2 separate regions of the Homo sapiens genome follow, and region 2 is linked to region 1. Evidence: fine-mapped expression QTL. Tissue or cell type: whole blood. Region 1 holds a variant in brackets; the other region holds the start of a gene. All regions are shown on one strand. Distances are from middle to middle.

Region 1 (2,771 bases):
TCTTTTTTTTTATACTTTAAGTTCTAGGGTACATGTGCACAATGTGCAGGTTTGTTACATATGTATACATGTGCCGTGTTGGTTTGGTGCACCCATTAACTCGTCATTTACATTAGGTATTTCTCCTAATACTATCCCTCCCCCAGGCGCCCACCCTACCACAGGCCTCAGTGTGTGATGTTCCCCGCCCTGTGTCCAAGTGTTCTCATTGTTCAATTCCCACCTACAAGTGAGAACATGCGGTGTTTGGTTTTCTGTCCTTGTGATAGTTTGCTGAGAATGATGGTTTCCAGCTTCATCCATGTCCCTGCAAAGGACATGAACTCATCCTTTTTTGTAGCTGCATAGTATTCCATGGTGTATAGTGCCACATTTGACCCAGCGATCCCATTACTGGGTATGTGCCCAAAGGATTATAAATCATGCTGCTATAAAGACACATGCACACACTGTACTCTTTCTAACAAAACTTCATGTCCTCACCCATAGATCAACATTAGAAACCTTGCACAAAATGTGAAAATCAAGTAAACCTGAAGGCACTAGAAAGTGACAAAAGCAGTCAGAATATTCAGGGTAATAGACACTTAGAAAAATATAACAGTATTGGAGGAGTTTCCTCTTTGCTGCCTGCAGGTGGCTTGTGTTTATCTGCTCTGACCCTCTGCCTTATTGCAAGGACAGAGGGCTTTCTGTATCCCAGGTTCTTGCCTTAACGTATCAGAAAAATTGGATCACACGTGGGCTTGGAGAACGAGTGCAAGGTTTTTTATCGAGTGGTAGTAGCTCTCAGCGAGGTGGATGAAGAGGCCAGAAGGAAGATGGAGTAGGAAGGTGGATTTCCCTGGAGTTGGGCCACCCAGCAGCCAGGCTGTCCTCTGACATCCCCGACCAATCTCTGCATCGGTCCATTGGTCGCTGGCCTTCCAGCATGTGCTGGTGCCTGTTGGTGTGTTCTTCTACCAATTTGCTACTCTTAACATTCAGTTGCTTGTGTCTCTTCCTGCTATAGGCACAGGATGGGGGCATAGCAGGCCAGGGTGATCTTGGAAAATGCAACATTTGGGCACAAAAACGGAAATTCCTGTCCTCACCTAAGTCTGTGGGCCCAGGCCCCAGGAGTGGAGGCTTTGTCAGGGACCGTGCCTTTCTCTTTTCAGCACTTCCCTGCACCCCTCTCATATAATTAGCAGCTGTCATTCTGAATGGGAAAAATA[A/G]ACTTATTTTTCTAAATAAAAGGATTTTGCCAGACATGGTGGCTCAGGCCTGTAATCCCAGCACTTTGGGAGGCCGAGGCTCTCAGATCACTTGAGGTCAGGAGTTAGAGACCAGCCTGGCCAACATGGTGAAACTCTGTCTCTACTAAAACTACAAAAATTTGCCGGGCATGGTGGTGCAGGCCTGTAGTCCCAGCTATTCCAGAATATAATACAATATAATATATATATATATTTATATATATTATATTATAAATATATATATATTATATTATAAATATATATTATATATAATATATAAATAATATATATAATGCATTATATATAATATATAAATATATATTATATATAATGCATTATATATAATATATAAATAATATATATAAATGCATTATATATAATATATAAATAATATATATAATGCATTATATATAATATATAAATATATATATAAATGCATTATATATAAATATTTTATATATATATACACTTTAAGTTCTGGGATACATGTGCAGAACGTGCAGGTTTGTTACACAGGTATACACGTACCATGGTGGTTTGCTGCACCCATTAACCTGTCATCTAAATTAGGTATTTATCCTAATGCGATCCCTTCCCTAGTCCCCCACCCATCGAAGGCCCTGGTGTGTGATGTTCCCCTCCCTGTGTCCATGTGTTCACATTGTTCAACTCCCACTTATAAGTGAGAACATGCAGTGTTTGGTTTTCTGTTCCTGTGTTAGTTTGCTGAGAATGATGGTTTCCAGCTTCATCCATGTCCCTGCAAAGGACATGAACTCATCCTTTTTTGTAGCTGCATAGTATTCCATGATGTATATGTGCCACATTTTCTTTATCCAGTCTATCATTGATAGGCATTTGGGTTGGTTCCAAATCTTTGCTATTGTGAATAGTGCTGCAATAAACATATGTGTGCATGTGTCTTTGTAGTAGAATGATTTACAATCCTTTGAGTATATACCCAGTAATGGGATTACTGTGTCAAATGGTATTTCTGGTTCTAGATACTTGAGGAATCGCCACACTATCTTCCACAATGGTCGAACCAATTTATACTCCCACCTACAGTGTAAAAGTGTTCCTATTTCTCCACATCATCTCCAGCATCTGTTGTTTCCTGACTTTTTAATGATCGCCATTCTAACTGGAGTGAGATGGTATCTCATTGTGGTTTTGATTTGCATTTCTCTAGTAACCAGTGATGATGGGTTTTTTTTCAAATGTTTGTTGGCCGCATAAATGTCTTCTTTTAAGAAGTGTCTGTTCATGGCCTGTCGTAGTGGCTCACGCCTATAATCCCAGTACTTTGGGAGGCCGAGGTGGGCGGATCACCTAAGGTTGGGAGTTCGAGACCAGCCTGACCAACATGGAGAAACTCCATCTCTACTAAAAATACAAAACTAGCCGGGCATGGTGGTGCATGCCTGTAATCCCAGCTACTTGGGAGGCTGAGGCAGGAAGAATTGCTTGAACCTGGGAGGCAGAGGTTGCAGTAAGCCAAGATCACACCACTGCACTCTGGTGTGGGCAACA
Region 2 (2,635 bases), 32 kb before region 1:
TGCCTATGCCCCTGGCCGAATAAACCCCTTCCTTCTTTACCTCGGTGTCTGAGGAGTTTTTTCTGTGGCTGGTCCTGCTACAAAGGAAGAGTAAGCTGTGGGTACTCAGAAGAACAAGTTCCCTGTGACTGGACCTTCAGAGACAAGAGACCAAAGTGGAGCTGCAGAGATGAGCAGCAGTCTGCCCGTCCTGCGGCCTCTCTCCTCGGACTAACCAGAGGGCTGCTAATTTATCAGGAAAGCTATGGACAGCATCCAAAAAGTTACCAGAAGGCAAGTAAAAGGATAACCTTCAAAAGGGCCTTACTTCTGAAGACTGAGTACCTAAGACTCCTTCGCCTCATACCCAGATCCAGATAAGGGCTCTCATCCCTGCTGAACCTCATCATGAGGTTGCTTTATGAAAAGTGAAAACAAAGCTTCATTGCACAGGCTTCTTCGGGAGAAAGGAGGAAGGAATTTGCTGCCTCTGAATAAAAGAAAATTCTGATCCACGTTGGCAAAATGGAAAAATCAAAATGACAGAATAGGAATGTGGGGTATGATAAGGTTTCTCTTCAAATAGCCTGATCAATCCTTTATTCTTTAATTCACAGTGCCCCTCCCCACTTCACTTTTCTTCTCTTCTCTTTCCTTTCTGCTTTTGCTACATGCCTAGACATGTCACAGTACCAGGCGTTATCAGTACCAACTCACATTCCTTTCCTTATTTTGGAAGAAGATTAGTTATCTAGCTCATCACACACACCCCTTCCCCATCTCCCCTCTCTCCCTCACGTGCCCACCTTATCTAAAGAAAGTTAAAATGTTTAGCCAACTGAGTCTAGTTTAGATTGTGTGGCCGACTCCAGCCAATGGGGAAAGGGCAAAGGGGTAGGATTTGCGTCAGGAATAAAAACTTTCTTCCTCCTTTGTTCTAGTGTGCTCTCATGGCGACTGGCAAAGAAGAAGCACCCCTCTGCACAGAAATAAAATTGCTTTGCTGAGAAATCCTTTGTTTGAGTGCTCGTCTCCCTTAAGATTCTGAGCTTTATTTCCAACAAGGAAGGTGATGGAGGTACCTAGATTGAAGAAATGAATGGTCCCTCTAGGAAACAAGCAAGGCTTTTTGCTTTTGCAAACCTCTCTTCTTTAAAGGTTACCCCTCTCCCAGACTCAGTGCTTTCTTCCTCTGCCATCTCAGCAGACAGTTCACAAGCTGCCTCTTTTTGTTTATGCAGAGCAGCTTCAGAACTACAAATTAAACTCACCCAGACACAATCAATCTATTCTTCTCAAAGCCTCCCATTCTATGCTCCCACAGATTGCTCCACTCACCTTCAGTCCAAAGCAGAGGAGTCTTGAATCAGGGGAGAAGAGTGAAGGCAGGGCAGGAGCCGGTGTAAACCAGATTCACTCACCAAGCCAGAGGGCTGGTCTCCACAAATGAGTTTCCCCACAGGAGCTGAGTGAGAAACGAAAGTTAAATTCTCAGAAGTGAAAGAAAACAAAGGAAGCTGAACAAGAACTTACATAACAATAAACCCTGGGGAAAGTAATGCTACATTATGTTCTAGCATCTGCTGTACTGGCAAGGCACTCAGTCACTACTTCCTTATTCTTACTGTGGTTTACTCAAGCAAGAATATTTGAATAAAAAGAATGTGAATTACAGTTATACAGCTTGCCTGAATACTTAGAATTCCAATGCAGTCCTATAATTATTAGTCGAATTTATCTTATATTTAAGACCTAAGCCAGGAAAATAAAGATCCAGAGACTTGGGACCTAGCTTCTTGAAATGCAGTCTGACGAGGAAGATACTCAGTTATAAAGCTCTACAAATTTGGGCTGACAAGATGAGTATTAGCAGCTGACATTGTGAATGGTAAAAAAATTATTTTTATAAATAAAAGGATCTTTAGTGTGAGCCCATTGAAAAAAATGTTCTCAAAATGTCATTAAATCTTAAGAGTCCATCAATTAATTATCACTTCCTGCTCCTAATCCAGACAGACCAGATGAGGATGGATTCCAGAGAGTAATAGAGGTAAAACTGTGTCAGTGTCATGTTACCCAGCCACTGAGGCAGGTGAGAACATGGAAGTTAACAGATGATGCTGTTTAATTATAATCATTCATTGAGTTACTCTCATGCCTTCATAATTTTTCCACTTTTCCCTGCTTCTCTAAGAAAAGTTTGGTCATTTTTACACAATCAATTAAAAAGCAGCACTGAAACATGTTATACGTCATGCACATACTTCTGTACCCTGTTGTCTATTGTATTCTTGTTTAACTGCATGTGCCAGATAATGCCATCAAAAACTGATGGAGGCCTGTGGTGTCTCATGCCTGTAATCCCAGCACTCTGGGAGGCCCAGGTGGGTGGATCACTTGAGTCCAGGACTTCAACACCAGCCTGGGCAACATGGTGAAATCCCATCTCTAAGAAAAATTAAAAAAAAAAAAATAGCTGGGTGTGGTGATGTGCACCTGTAGTCCCAGCTACTCAGGAAACTGAGATGGGAGGATGGCTTGAGCCCAGGAGGTGGAGGTTGCATTGAGCCAAGATTGCGTCATTGCACCATAGCACTGCAGCCTGGGTGACATAGTAAGACCCTGTCTCTACAAAAAACAAACAAACAAACACCAC

What was found. PIP is the estimated chance that this variant, and not a neighbour inherited with it, causes the effect.
Region 2: TRIM22 starts here. The variant in region 1 is fine-mapped to the expression of TRIM22 in whole blood (INTERVAL, PIP above 0.99).

The regions. Positions count from the first base shown.
Region 1 is chr11:5,656,389-5,659,159 of GRCh38, reverse strand. The region is part of intron 1 of LOC107984302 (a long non-coding RNA gene); the gene reads left to right. It also overlaps a transcript of TRIM5 not described here. Among named protein-coding and RNA genes, the nearest start is that of TRIM5, 27 kb to the left of the region's middle. The variant A/G (reference allele first, on the strand shown) is at 1,218.
Region 2 is chr11:5,688,582-5,691,216 of GRCh38, reverse strand. It overlaps TRIM22 (tripartite motif containing 22), which reads right to left and starts at 1,427. Exons shown (of 8, transcript NM_006074.5): 1 at 1,318-1,427. It overlaps LOC124902620 (a long non-coding RNA gene), which reads left to right. Exons shown (of 2, transcript XR_007062561.1): 1 at 1-539; 2 at 921-990. RefSeq lists enhancers at 608-707, 123-1,322, 1,294-1,633, 755-1,747.